Linked DNA regions of Homo sapiens: all the other regions are reported to be linked to region 1. Evidence: microRNA targets listed by miRTarBase, many of them from high-throughput screens and not tested one by one. Region 1 holds a microRNA gene; each other region holds the end of a gene's coding sequence.
What was found. The annotated mature microRNA hsa-miR-629-3p reads GUUCUCCCAACGUAAGCCCAGC and lies in region 1 at 1,806-1,827, shown strand. An mRNA with a match to its seed (bases 2 to 7 or 8) in the 3' UTR can be bound and repressed. Matches are read on the target gene's strand: a 7mer-m8 pairs with bases 2 to 8, a 7mer-A1 pairs with bases 2 to 7 and ends in A, and an 8mer does both.

Region 2: the mRNA of RUNDC3B is a reported target of hsa-miR-629-3p. Seed matches in the 3' UTR shown: 7mer-m8 at 2,277-2,283.
Region 3: the mRNA of ZNF202 is a reported target of hsa-miR-629-3p. Seed matches in the 3' UTR shown: 7mer-A1 at 3,531-3,537.

The regions. Positions count from the first base shown.
Region 1 is chr15:70,076,139-70,081,213 of GRCh38, reverse strand. It overlaps MIR629 (microRNA 629), which reads left to right and starts at 1,746; the gene lies at 1,746-1,842. It overlaps TLE3 (TLE family member 3, transcriptional corepressor), which reads left to right. Exons shown (of 20, transcript NM_001105192.3): 5 at 5,056-5,075. RefSeq lists enhancers at 1,682-2,288, 2,289-2,895.
Region 2 is chr7:87,829,442-87,834,516 of GRCh38, forward strand. RUNDC3B (RUN domain containing 3B) reads left to right here. Exons shown (of 11, transcript NM_001134405.2): 11 at 444-2,855. The coding sequence ends at 589. It overlaps SLC25A40 (solute carrier family 25 member 40), which reads right to left. Exons shown (of 12, transcript NM_018843.4): 12 at 4,127-5,075. Among named protein-coding and RNA genes, the nearest start is that of SLC25A40, 44 kb to the right of the region's middle.
Region 3 is chr11:123,721,884-123,726,958 of GRCh38, forward strand. ZNF202 (zinc finger protein 202) reads right to left here. Exons shown (of 9, transcript NM_003455.4): 9 at 2,031-5,075. The coding sequence ends at 4,114. Among named protein-coding and RNA genes, the nearest start is that of ZNF202, 17 kb to the right of the region's middle.

The DNA.
Region 1 (5,075 bases):
GTTAATCCCTTCATTTTGCAGACAACGAAATTAATGCCTAGAGAAGGGAAGTGATTTGCCCAAAGCCACACAACTAAATGGAGGCAGAATTGGAGGTAGAAGCCAGCTCATCTCTGCGTGGCGTTGGAGCATAACACACTCTTTGAAGGGGCAGTTTTCTCTTCTCCTTGCCTTTATTTGGCTGAGGTTAAAAGGAATTGTGCATTCAGAGTCCACAGGTACACACGACAGGGCAGTTTAAAACTAACTAGCAGACAGACTCTCTGGTGGAAGTAGCTCTCGACGGTGTGTTGGACACAGTCACCTAAATTAAAAATAAGGGCAAGGACTGGCTGGGTGCTGCAAGCCCAGGAGCAGGAGGTTGCTGGGGGGTACAGATCAAGAGCAGGCTCCGTTTCCCTTAATTTAGTGTCTTGGGTCAAGGGCCAAGGATAGTCTGAAGTAGCAGCAAACGTGAATACTAGACTGTGGTTAGAGAAATAGACTTTTAGAATGCTCAAGTACCCTCGGTTTACAGCAAGATGTTCAGAGGTCCTGCTTTAATGAGGAGATGATCATGCAAATGGGAGCTACTAAGGCGCATGGAACAGATTGCTGTTTGGGAAATTACACTTGCCCCCCACTATCTTGTTTTCTGTCATTTATTTGCCTAACAATCTTGACAGAGATGCAGGGCAGATGTTACTCCCAGCGCCCAGTTGGTAGTGCAGATTCCGGATGTAGCAGGACCTCTGTCCCCATTTCTCTGAACTGCTTCTCTGTCTGTATCTAGTAGATTAGTTCCTTCTGAGGAACAATGTTTTTCCACCAACAAAGCGCCTGCTTTGAACCATACTTGAAAAGAAACTTTCAAAGGCGGCACCAGCCTCCCTGAACACCTTTTCCAAAGTGCTTTCCAAAGGGAGCCATCTTCCCACCTCCCACCACCTCTCAGATTCGCTTCTGAAGACCTGGCTCAAAAGCAGTGGCTTTGTGGGACCGAGATGGAGGGAAGGATGGAGGTCGGCCTCTGGAAACTACAGCCGCCTTATCGATAACGGATTGCGCCAAGTTGCCAAAAGGAGTTTTCCAACATACGATCGAGTTCCAGTTTGTGATTTGTGACCTGTCCCAATTGTTGAAGTCACACTTGATTTTTTTTTTTTTTTTTCCTTTTTTGGAACTGATGTTTAGAGCTTGTTTGAGTTGGATCCAATGCTGTTTTAACAGCTGTTCTAATCAGAAGTGCTGTCAATTATTAACCTTAATGGTGGTTTTTCTTTCAAAAATATTTCTCTAAGCTCTCTTGAAATGTCAAAATTTGGCTTCTTGGTAGGAAGTCATTTAGTGAAATCACTTAATGGCTGGGCATCAGTTTCCCCATCTGAAAAGTGGAGATGTTGACAAGCGCCTTCTCCGCGGGGTTATTGTGGATGCACACATGGCGAGTTGGGTGGGTGATATCAGCGGTCATTACTGTTGTTAGGAGGGCTTCTGTTAAGCCAGCTTTCCATTTCCAGGAACTTCCCCTCCCCCAAGCGCCACCCTCCAAAAAATAAACATTTCTTTAAAATGTTGAGCGAACAGCTTTCCTGTTCATGCTTTGACTCTGCAGAGTGCACGCAGCCCATTCTCAGGGTTGGGCAGCCTTTGTAGAGATGGGGGAGGCCCAATCCCTGCTTCCACTTTGTGGGGAGACCCCAAGAGGGTACTAGCAGATGATGGCACAGTGACAGCTGGGAGGGATGGGATGTGCTTGCTTCATGTCCCTTTCCCAGGGGAGGGGCTGGGTTTACGTTGGGAGAACTTTTACGGTGAACCAGGAGGTTCTCCCAACGTAAGCCCAGCCCCTCCCCTCTGCCTGCCTCAACCCTACACAGTCCTGTCTGGTGACGTGCCAAAGTCCTTCCTGCCTTGCAGAGAGGCCTCTCTTCGTCGAACATGGGCCTCAGGAAAGACAGCCTGAATGCCACTACCCCAGGCTTGTGGAAGGTTCTGCATCTGTGTGGCATTGTTGCGATAGCCCTCAGTTGATGCTTGTTTGTGGTGTTGGGAGGCAGGAACTACTTTAGGAGGGTGGAGGGGTGAGAATGAGAGAGGACTTGCCCTGAGCCACCCAGCTGTGGTCACCTGATGGCCCGGATGGCTACATAAATCCTGGGAGATCCGTTGTCCTCATAACCAGAGTGAGCTGGGCTCCAGACCAGCCCTATGGGAAGATCCTGTCTGTGGGAAGCCTTTGGCCACGTGTTTGCTGAAGGGTGTGGGGAAGGGCAAGGTCAGCTACGTTTCTTTTTTGTCAACTCCCGAGACCCTGACCCTTGGCCTGTTTACCAGTGGAAGGAGGCCATAGCCAGAACCCTTTTATAATCACCCTGCCTCCCTGCTCTCCCAGAGACTGTGAGAGTTAATAGTTGCTGAGGAGGCCAGAATGACTGGGGATGTTCTGACCTTGCCCCTGCCTTCCTGGCTGTGGGGAGGAGTAGTGGCCAGGGACCCATCTAGGTGGCTTGCGATTGGCCTGGCTTGGAGGTGCCACCCCACCCCGTTGGTGAAGGGCTTGGGCCACTGGCCACCAAGTGTATGTCAACACTCCATCCACCACGGCCCCTCCCACAGATGCTGCCCATGCTGGGGCAGGCCCAGATCCACAGCAAGGGGTCACTGCAATATGAAGTCTCAATAAATGCAGAGATGCCAGTGATACTATTCTTTGGGCCAAACATTTACGGAGCAGCTACTGTGTGCCAGACACTGCTCTATTGTTGTTTAAGATAACAGGCCTTGGACCTGTGAGCTTCCTAAACAGTAAGGTTGGTTTTTTTTGTTTATTTTTGTTTGCTTTTTGTTTTTTACATATCTTTCTATTCTTATTTGGTGCATGAACTCAAAGGTGAGAGAACTTGTTACTCTGCCGGTTTGGAGTGAGCTGCAGCCTATGCTTGTTTCTAGAACTCCTGCCCTATCCAACCCGGACTTTTTTGCTTCATTCCCCATTCCTACTATCAGTTGATTTAGGCGAGGAAAAAATAAGCAGAGTGAGGAAGGACCCTGTTTGGGAGAGCTCTTCCCACTTAACTAGATTAACAATTTATATAATGATTATTTAGTAATCCTCCTGGGTTCCTTAGAGTATGAATGACGGGTGTCTAGTGGGTGGAGAGGCCAGGGATGCTTTTAAAAGCCCTGCAGTGCACAGAACGGGCTCCACACAGCAGTGAATTATCTGACCTCAGATGTCAATAGCATGGTGTTTGAGAAACCCTGATGTATGGTGTCCTGGCTAGAGTGCCCCACACATGTGTCAATGTGGAGTCCCAGTGGGTCTGAGCTGGGCAGTTTGGAAGTGGGGGCCATTGTTGACACAGTTGGCCTGGGATATGAGCGACAGTCCTTTATAACAGGAATTGTCTCTCCCCAAATGCCAACAGTGGTGCTGGCTGGGAAACACTGACTCTGTTCCTGAGGAGCTAGAGTGTTCTAGGCAGAAAGCTGACAGCAGTGATTCCTGATCCTCTCCCTGCCAGGAACCCCCACTGTAGCGGACAGGCTCCGTAGGTTGGCGAGCCCTGCCACCGTGGCTGGCAGCCCAGGACACAGGCCTGCAAAAACCCATAAGGCTCTTTAGTTGATGGCCTGCCTTTCCACAAACCAGAGGCGTCCTCTTTAGTGGCCAAGGGTGGAGGGGGTGGAGGGTGTTAGCCCAAGGAATTCTCCCGAGGTCCAGGGTCTATTTATGCGCCTTCAGATTGTTTTTATTTTAAGTGCACAAGGATTTCTCATCCAGAATCATTTGACATGCAGATGATCACAGATTTTTAAAGGCTGTTGTCATGGTTTTGTCTCTGAAAGATTGCTATGTGCTGATGAAAGCTTTGAAGCCAGCTTTGGGACCTCAGTCCTGGCGGGCTCAGGATTCAGAATGAGATAAGAAAAGCAATTCTGAGAGTCGTCTGTCAGTGGTTCTAGGCCTTTCTATCTGGACTCAGTTAACCCGTATAGCACCACTCTTGATCTGAGATCTAAAGTTTACATAGGATACTGGTGGAAACTGTTGACTTTCTAAATGCAGTCTTTTCTAGGGTGTTGGGAGATGAGGCAGAGAATTGATCTACCTTTCTAAGATTGACTTCTGTGAGGGATTAGGGATCTAATGAATTACATCTCTGAGCAGCTTCTTAGACAAGGCAATGCTATATCCTAAAAAATGAAGTGTTGGCTGGGCATGGTGGCTCCTGTCTGTAGTCCCAGCCCTTTGGGAGGCCAAGGTGGGCAGATCACTTGAGCCCAGGAGTTTGAAACCAGCCTGGACAACGTGGCGAAACCCAGTCTCTACAAAAATACAAAAATTAGCTGGGAGTGGCAGTGCACCTATAGTCACAGATATTTGGGAGGCTGAGGCAGGAGAATCACCTGAGCCCAGGAAGTCGAGGCTGCAGTGAGCCAAAATCATACCACTGTACACCAGCCTGGGTGACAGTGAGACCCTGTCTTAATGGGAAAGAAAAAAAAAGAAAGAAGGCTTAATGGTAGGATTTTAGCCTGGTAGCATATATGTGGGGGAGGGATTGATCTTGGTGAGGGAGAGGCTAGTCCCAGGGAACCCTTTGCCACATAGGACCGCTTATCAGCTTAGTCCCATTTATCTGAGAGCTCATGTCCTATTGGCACTGGGCACCAGTGGGCAGAGCAATTCCTCTCTCACTAAACTGTGTTTCACTCTTACAGTGGGTTTTGCTGGGTTGTTGGGGGTGATTTTTATTTCGTTTTGCTTTAATTAGGGATTCCATCCAGAGGATGCAAACTATATTCTGAACCAGACATGTAGACTACCTCTGATGGAAATTGGAGCTCCCTAAAATGTAGGCAGCCTGGCTGCAAGGGAGTTGAAAGAGATTTCTTCATGCTGTGGATTTAGCTAGAGCCTCCTGGTAGGAGGCTGACTGAGGGCAGAAAGGATGGAGCCCCGTGGAGAGGGGCTGTGGTCTGGGGGGAGTTTGCATTTCCACTTGCCTATGACATTTCAGTGACTTGATTTATTTGCCTGAGCTTCATGTGGTCTCCTTGCCTTTGCAGACAGAGATTGCGAAGAGACT
Region 2 (5,075 bases), not on the chromosome of region 1:
GAATAGAGAGTCTTTTTCCCATTGCTTACTTTTGTCAACTTTGTCAAACATCAGATGGCTATACATGTGCAGCTTTATTTCTGGGTTCTCTATTCTGTTCCATTGGTCTTTGTGTCTGTATAACAGCACCTTTCTATTTTGGTTACAGCTTGAAGTTAGTTGATGTGATGCTTCTAGCTTTGTTCTTTTTTATTAAGATTGCTTTGGTATTTGTGCTTTTTGGTTCCATATGAACTGTAGGATTTTTTTTCTAATTCTGTGAAAAATGATGTTGGTACTTTAATGGGGATAGCAGTCAATCATGCAATTTGTTCTGTAGGTTTCTTTGGGCAGTATGGTCATTTTCACAGTATTGATTCTTCCAATTTCTAATGGTTTTAGGATCTTATTTGTATCATTCTTGAAGGGCAATTAATTATTTGCTATTTAATTCTAATTTTCAGGTAAGGAAGATACTCCCTCATTACTTGGCCTCTGTGGATCTCTAACGTCAGTGGCAAGTTACAAGTCTCTAACAAGCTTAAAATCTAATGACTACCTTGCAAGTCCTACAACAGAGATGACAAGTCCAGGCCTAACTCCATCCTGAAAATTTTTGTGTAAAAGCCAAAACTTTTTATGTTGTAAATGTTTAATTTACATGTTTGACTGCTGGGAAGACCTTTGAAATTTTATATTGTTCTGGTACATGTCTGAAATTCTATTGCTTGGAGAGAATCCCCTCCAGATAAGAGATTTTGAGTGAAAAACATAATGATCCTGCCATTTTTCATTTTTAAAATTCTTACATTTGTCATTGAGAAAGTTCAAAATGGAATAGGCTTTAAAAAAAAAAAAACTTTCAAAGATCCGCCAAATCATTCATAGCAAATTGTACATATTGTTCAGCTGATTTTTATATATTTAAATACACCTTAGTGGCCAGAGACTGACTTCAAGGTTTTATTCCAGAGACTCCAGAGACTTAAGCTAAGTATTTTTTCATTCTTTCAGATTTTCAAAAAAAAAAAAAAAAAAAGTTAATTTCATTTTTTCATTAATGTCTTCCTAAGTTCTATGCTTTAAATGCCTTGTTTTTAATAACGGGAAAGTTCTCAGCTGCATTTTCACAGTGGCTTATTCAGTTTTTCTTTAATATTTACCATTTGGTATCAATTCAGCATTCCACTTAACATTTTATAAATTCCATAGGAACATGCCTGTTTTGGTAGTTACTGACTTAATTTGTTAGTGCCACAAGGAAAATATTTTACAGTATTTTATGCCATTTAGGCAAAATGAATAAACTGTTTTCCAAGATTTTCTTAAAAGATTATCAATTTAAAAGTATGATCAAGTATGCCTCAAAAACTAGAAACATTTCAAAATGTAGAACAAACGTTGAAAAATTGTTTTGCCAGGAAAGAGTTCAAGTTCAGTTAAGGATTTGAGAGGCTTTTAAACAAGGATCAGTAGGATAGTTATCATATTTACTTAATATATGTCTGATATTCAGTGCTGGTTCTTTTTCCTGTTTGTGCAACAATGAAGTGTGTCATGTGTGTTTTATAGCCTCTATCATTAATCACACCAGAGTCTCATTTTAAAACATTTTAATGTTAAAACATCCCCACACTTATACACAGGTAAAATTAGTTTTTTTTTTTTTAAAGTTGTAATCTGTACTTTTTTTTTTTTGCAATTTTTGAAACAGCTACATTAATCCCTAAAAATCCCACCATACTGAAAATGTATGGCGTGTATTTTCTATAGTAAGTAATATGAGGAAAACATGATTAGCTGTGCCAAAGAAATTTTATACATTGTTTACATGATGAGGCCACAGTACTTACTGAGGACTTCATATGGTTTTTTTGTTTATTATTATTGAGAAAAGAGCTGAGGTTACCACATTCATTCTTTGTGTTAGAAATGTAGGAGTGTGGTGGTTTTCTGCAATATTTAGAGCTTAGTCTCATAATTTGGAATTTAAGATAATAAGTAGTAACAAGGCAAGTCTTTTATGTAAGACAGTCAAACAGTGTCACTTCAGGGACAAAGGCCTGGAAGCCCTTAAAATAAGTTATCTTAGATGTGCCAGAACATATTCAGAGCTTTATTCCTTTAAGCTTAAGGCTTCAATACTTGTAGAAATGCAAATATTCTTGAGAAATGATACATTTTTTGTTCTCAATTTCTCAATTCTACATACCTGATTATGAGTGAAGTATCCAAAGCAGGTTTTCATCAGCATGGGGGATGGAAGGTAGGTATAATATGAGGACAATGGAAACTTTGGGAGAAGGGAGTGAGGAAATGGATAAAGAGAAATTTGAAAATTTTAGGCTGGACTTGAGCACTATTGCTGCTTTCCTATGAACTATCAGAATGTTTAAATGCTTTATCATTCATGGTCCACTCTCAACCAACATTTATTATCCTTTAGTAATTAAACAATGGTTTTACATACATTTTTATAATGTAGAAGGAAATTCAAGATTCCATAATCGTAAAATTTTTCAGATTTGTCTAATGTGTAATTTGTGCATCTTCACATGCTGCTAAATGCAGATTTAAACATTACATCTGAGGATCATGACTTTTCCTCCTTTCTTGGAGATCTTGGTATAAAATTCATCTGCTGTTATAAAATCAGGTTTCTACAGAGTTCGTTTCACACTAAAGGTAGTTTGTTACTGTTTGCATGAGGAAACCATGTATGTCTCAATCTTTAATTTTAGGTGGTAGTGTTTATTGTTCACCCTCCCTCTTGCCTCCAAAAGAATGCTGAATTATACGCCAATATTTCCATGTGTATTCTGTTGCCTTGATGCGTACTATACTTGTTGCATGTATATTAAAAATTTTGTACTATGCATTGGTGGTCTTATTTTGCTTGACAAAAAGTTACCTGATTTAAGTACACTTAACTTTTGTTTCAGCAAATGTGGTAAATATATATTATTTCACACCTAAAATACTAACATGAAAATGGAATGGGAGAAATCCTTATTTCAACTCACATCAAGTTAAATATCCTATTTTTTAAAAGTAACATGATATGCTTTAGAATACACAACATCTATTCAATCAATCAGTACAGTTTAGTAGTGGTTCTGGCAGTGTTACTGATTTAATTATAAAATAGTCATGTTTGTTTTCTCACCTGTAAGAATCATCACTATCTTCTTGGCACCTAAGAGATGGCATCAGGATGATGTAAGCATTAAATAAAATCATATATAAAAGAAGTTCTAAAGAGATAAATGCCAAATGCAAGCTACTACTAATTATGAGTGGCAGAAAAAGTAGATCATAAGTTAGTTGTTAAATCATTAGATTTACATACAGTTTTAAGTGGTTATCAATGTGTCCCAAATTTACAACTTAGAAAACTGCTTTGTTAAAGTTCCTATCATTAGATGAAATGTGCAGATTTTGCTAAACTAAACTAACATATTGGATTACCACTTAAGTGTCACAAGACTGTTGTTCATTCTGCTCTTCTGAAAGCAAAGCAGCTTCGATTTAGTTTTAGCATTTGTCATTTTAACTGATTGATAGGAAAGGGAAGCTAAAATTACCTCTTTTTCATTATGGTACATTTAAAAAGCATATTTTAATACAAACCAAAACTTTTAGATTTTAACATAGATCACCTTATCATAAGCCCCATTTTCCATACTGCTGGGTATCTTCCAAAACCCAAGTCTAACTAACTGTTACAACTTTGCCAAAAAGTTTTTCCTAGGTTTCTCACAGCCTTCTTGTTCCTCCTTAAGCGCACAAGGCCTTAGATTACATTTCCATGTTTACACTTTCCCATGTATACACTTTGTTCAAGCCATATGGACTAAATTCTATTGCCTTATTGAGACTCCCACTTCCCTGCATGTTTACTTATTGGATTGCCTGTCTGTCAGTCCAACTCAGGTTTCCTGACCACTCCCCTTCTCTGCCCCCAGGCTGAGTGAACAACTCCCCATATTTCCCATGACTCCCTTTGTATGTTTCTATCAATCACTCAATCATAGCTCTGAAACCTCCTGTGGCCAGTAACAATATCTGAAATATCTTATCATCTCCAGTGCTTTTTATATACTGCCTACTACATAAAATGTCCCAATAAATGTTGACAGATTAAATATAAAAGCAGTAATATCTTTTATTTAAAAAGTTCATCTTAGAAGAAAATTCAAAAGGGATACAATAAACTTTTCCATATCCCAAAAACTTGTGCCCAAGACAAAAAGAGGGAAGAATTTAAGTTTAGGGGTACATATGCAGGTTTGTTACACAGGTAAACTTTTGTGTCATGGGGATTTATTATACAGATTATTTCATCACCCAGGTATTAAGCCTAGTACCCATTAGTTATTTTTCCTGTTCCTCTCCCTCCTCCCACCCTCCACCCTTTGATAGGCCCCAGTACATGTTGTTCCAAGAGGGAAAAATTTAAAAAACATATGCAGTTAAATAACCATAATGAATAGTTTTCCTAGAAAAAAAAATATTGCCTTTTAAAAAAAATCAAATATGTACTACTTTAAAGGTTGCAACCATCTCATATTGAAAATTAAAGATGTTCCTTCCTAAAATTTTACATTAATCAATTAAATGTTTATGTTAGAAAATTTAACATTAATAGAATAAAAACTGTTTTAGAAACATCACCAAGAACACTGTTGTGGCACATGTTTGCAAATATTGCAATTCCTGCAACATCATATGTATTGAAAAGTCTGGAAAGCCCATGTGGCTGAGAGTTAAATTTATATACTGAAGTAAAACCTGGGAATATTCATCATGCCAATTATAGTTCAATTATTTTATCAGACAGAACTCTGAGAGCAAATTAAAATTTTAAAATTTTACCTATTCCATAGACTGAATTTTTCTAGGTACTATTTTAATACAAATTATTATTATAGCAAAATTCTGAACACTTTTTGGTTGTTAGTATATTTTAAAAGTATTAATATTTCTTTTTACCTCTTAAATATAAAGAAAGCTTCAATTCAGCCTTCTATTCATCCAGATACATTGCATGTATATGTGTTAAAAAAACGACTAGGCAATTAGATTTACTTATCTTA
Region 3 (5,075 bases), not on the chromosome of region 1:
GATTTATTCTCTACTTAAATGGAGAAGGTTTGGCTATTTTCCTGCATGGCGTTTTAGATGGTTGAATCTTCTTGCTTCTGGAAGTCTTTACAGCTTCTGGAAGTCTTTACATAACCCTACAATGCTCTCAACCTCCTCTGAAGAGTCCCTATCTTTATGAATTGCCAAATAAACTAGTTTGTGCTGACTGATTCCTTTTTTAGAATTTGAATTGCATTCCTCCTTCTACCTGAAACCTCGGTGTACACACGTGCATGCGTGCACTCACACACACTAAAGAGAATAGAAATTGCACATTAAGAGGTATCTTTGTGCTGGTCTGACAATCACTTTGTTCCTTTTTGTTATTAAAGATAAAAAAGGTGGTGTCTAAAGAAAGCTGGGCTCCTCCTTGCTTGATCCTCAGGACTTCCGCAAGGATGAATTAAGTTATTCCACTTATTCCAAGGAGATGTGCTTACATTTGAAACATTGTATCAGTTACTTTGCCACAATAAAGGTTAGTAATCACGTGGGTTGGCCATCCACTTTGTGGCTCTTTCAGTCTTTCCCTCTCCCATAAACTAGATTAGTGGGTTAGTCAGCCAACATCACTAGAAATATAAGGAGATGGAAATAATTGTAGGTATATTTCTCTCAGCTATTGTGGCTGGACTATTTAGGTCAGCTGAGGGAAGACGCTAGAGGTAAAACAAACTATTTTTAAAAATACTGGTGTGGGGCCAGGTGCGGTGGCTCACGCTTGCAATCCCAGCACTTTGGGAGGCCAAGGCAGGCGGATCACAAGGTCAGGAGATCGAGACCATCCTGGCTAACATGGTGAAACCCCGTCTCTACCAAAATTACAGAAAATCAGCCGGGCGTGGTGGTGGGTGCCTGTAGTCCCAGCTTCCTGGGGAGGCTGAGGCAGGAGAATGGCGTGAACCCGGGAGGCGGAGCTTGCAGTGAGCCGAGATCACGCCACTGCACTCCAGCCTGGGCGACAGAGCGAGACTCCATCTCAAAACAAACAAACAAACAAATACTGGTGTGGAAGGGTACCAAATTATTAACCTGCTCAACATGTCATCAGTTACTATTTCTCAGTTCAGCTTTCATTCTAGAAAACTACTATGGAGCCGTTAACTCTCATTTGGATTACTGTCCTTTCAGCCAGTCTGGTGAATCAAAATTTTTTATTTATTAAATATCCCATTTTTCGCCTGTGGCAGGGTGGTGGTCCAGAGGCCTTGACTGAAGGGGACTGGAACAACTTGTCTGTGCCATCTCTGGGCTTTTCTCCTCTACTACTCTACTGCTCAGTGCAAACAATGTATCTTCTATTAGATCCATTACTTCAGTTGTGCTTTGAAGGGGGCAACAGGTTTCTTAGTGGGTTTTGATTTTAGTACCTTGATGTTAATCTGATTTATGAAATTCTCCATGGAGTTCATCTGAGTTTACCGGATTCTGCTCCGGAATATGAGGCCTAAGTCCCAGATAATAAAAATGTATTTTGGCTTGATCTCTTGGGCATTTATTTCTCCTCGGACTTTGTGGTGAAGAGGTTAAATATTCCTTGGTTATTCCTAAATTATCTGGTCAAACATCCTTATATTATCATTTTTAATGTGTCATACCTCTTTAGCACATTTCCAACCACCTGCCACTTCTGTTAATTAAGTAGCGTATTAACTTCCTCCAAATAATATCTTTAAAATCCCACCGTTTTCTCCCTCAGAAACTTAGTATGGTATTCAAGGATGCTAGAATTCTACTGCTCACAAGATACTAGAGGGGACCCCTCCGAATACACACCCTGTGCTCCAACCTCCCTGCTCACGCTCAGCTGCACTACTTCTTTCCTGCCGCTGCACACTGTGGTTGTGTTTGTTCAGATTTGGGAGACAACATGTCCCTCCCAGAACCTCAGAAAATTCAGTAATTTACAAAAGGGACCAGAGATTTAGTGTCAGCATATGAAACTCTGCAGGGAGATCAGTAATTAAGGACTATTTGATGTTCCAACAAACCGGCCCAGCCTCACAAGCTTTCCCTCATGTAGAACTCTGACAGATTTTCATTTATTGGAATAATGCAAATAAGAAAATTAAAAAGTCAATTTGTTGTCACTGCCAGTATTTTACCAACCTTTATAAATGGTTAAGTCTGAGCTAGGAGAAACTATCTTTTGTGGCAGACATTTCACCCAGGACAAGCTGTGCTTAGGCTTAGATACTTGGTTTAGAAATGCCTGCTTATTAGGACAGTATCTTCTGCAAACTCCAGGCTTGGATCTTATCTCAGAGTGCATATGTTTCACCGGACTCTGCTAATCATCCCAACCCTTCCTTTCCTCAAGGAAAAATACTCTGTACTCCCAGATCTATTTGAGTATGAACCACCCTCAGAAGTATCAGGACACTGAAGCCCTGGAAAAGGAATGGGTAAGATGGGAAGTCCCAGAAACCAGGGAACTTGGCTGCAAGTGTTACCTTTATTTATTTCATATATGTATATTTCCAGAAGGACAACGGTTGACTGGTATTAAGACCAAACCAGTCCATCAGAATATCATCGACCAAAATGAGAATTTCCCTGTTGGGCCATTAGGGTTGGAGTCTTATTAACCCTCCCCTATTCCTCGGGCCCATAATGCATTATGAGATAGAGGAGAAGAAACCAGGCACAGAAGACTCTCCCTGTCATGCTTTAACCCCATACCCTGTGCTCCACTTATGGAGGACGTCTCCCCAGTTCTTGCCACTCCCACAATCAGAGAAGGTGAGGTTCATAATTATTCAGCCTCATCTCCAAGGAACCTTTAACTGGCAACAGAGATTGTTGGGCCATCATGAGATGCTACTTTCTAGCTCTATGAACATAAAATCACGTAAGAAAAAGCAAACAACACAAATACATGAAAGCCATTTACTCCTGGTGAATTCCTCAGGGTCCCAGGTTCAACACTTTCCGTGATGTCAGAGTACTCAGTCAGGGATGATGGGGACAGGGTGTCAGAACAGTCTTGATGGTCTTGCCAGCAACAGCTTTTTCTTATTTTCCATAATTTGGTCTTAGTCGTTCTCCAGTTGTCTTCATGTAAATAAAGTGGCCCATGGCAATCATGATTCTGTAATTGTTATAGTGCCTTTGTAAGTTGACAGTTTCCAAATCCCCTTACTCATACGACCCCTGTGAAGGGGGGTGTGAAGGGGTTGGTGGGCTTGTGCATATGAGGGAATGTGAACGATTTCATTATGACCGAATTATGCTTTACTCAATAAGCACTCAAACACTACCATCTCACTTGTAGTAGAAGTGCTAGGGATGCAACCAAGAGACTGGTTGAATAACGGGAAGGTTAAATGCATGAGTATTTTAATAGAAAAAAATATTAAAAACAAAACCAAAACTCGTATGGAAAGAGGCTTCTGACTAGGCCCTCCTTTCTAGCAGTGTTTGGCACCTGATAACAATTTGACGCTGGGGGAGGGAGCAGCTTGACAAGGTCCACATGAAGCAGCCTTGAGATTTTTCGCCCACTTCCATTTCTCCTCAGCATCAAAGGAAAGTGCATGGTAAGAAGTGAATCAGACAGCGAGGGATCTATGCAGTTATCCTGTGAATGTGTGGCAAAGCCATCAGGACGCAAACCTCCTGTCTTGAGTCCAGAGCTGTGTGCTTTAAGATTTGACCCCAGTAAAGACAGAATCCTTCAGGCTCGTCCCTTCCCAAACCTAAGGGGCTGTCCTTGGCCACTTTCAACTTGAAGCTGTTGAGCAGTCTTTAGGATATGTAACAGCCTATTTTTTGGACGATATAGGAACCACGACCTCTTAAGTCTCTTAGTTCTCCTACTTTATACCCATGAGGTAGAGGCAGGTGCACTCCAGTGAAGGAGAAGCCTCAATTCAGGTTGTACTTTGGATGAAACATCCCCTCAAGGCGTAGAGGAAGGCTGAGAGGTTCTGCCCAGGCTCGTGTTTAGTTGCAGGAAGAGGTAATGTCAGATCTGAGCAGGTCAGGGAGACTCCCTCGAAAAGGTCTTCCCAGGCTGACAAGAGGGCTTTTCCTCTTCCTCACCTCCCTTAGGTGAGGGCTGAAAGCAGATCTCCTCACATGGGGACCTAGCTAGGAGGTCTTTTCTGAGTGGGTCCTCTGATGCCTAATTAAGTGATATCCTCTGCTGAAGCTTTTTCCACAGGTAGGGCACGTGAATGGTTTCTCCCCAGTGTGTGTTCTCTGATGCCTGACGAGGTGGTCCCTGCGACTGAAGCTCTTCCCACATTCGTTGCATCGGCAGGGCCTCACTGAGGCGTGTCCTCTCAAGTGCTTGGCGAACGCTGCGCTGTGGGTGAAGCAGCGCCCGCACTCGCTGCAGAGGTAGAGTTCCTCAGCAGCGTGCGTCTTCCGGTGCGCCAGGTACCGCCTGTGTTCACTGAAGTCCTCACCACACTCTCCACACAAGTAGGGTTTGCCTCCCAGGTGGATTCTTTGGTGTGTTGTTAACACAGATTTCTGGCTGAAGCTTTTGCCACAAATAGTACAAAAGAAGGGTTTTTCTCCAGTATGTGTCCTCTGATGTCTGACAAGGTCTGAAGTCCAGCGGAAGTGCTTTCCGCAATCATCACATCTATAGGGTTTCTCCACTGATGGAGTTCTCTCAGCCTGTGTCACAGGGGAGGTCTCTTCCAAATTCTTCCGGTTTAGGGGATATTTGTAAGGCGCGTTCATCTTGTGAACCTTTTGGTGCCTGGCAAGATGTGAGCTTCGTGTGTAACTTTTTCCACATTCCATACATTTATAGGGTTTCTCTCCTGTGTGAGTCCTCAGGTGTCTAACAAGGTGGGAGTTACAAGTGAAGCTCTTTCCACACACAGAACAGTCATGATGCCTCCCTAACAGGGGGTGGACGGGTGTAGTTTCCCGAAGGTTCACAAAACTATTCACTTGAGAAATATTAGTACCAAATCTTCTTTCATTAAGTCTACCTGGATTGTCCTCAAAGACTATTTCCCAATCTGGAGTCTGGTGAATTTCTGGTTCTCCCAAAACAGGCCTGTGTATATCCTCCAAACTCAGATCTTCCTGCT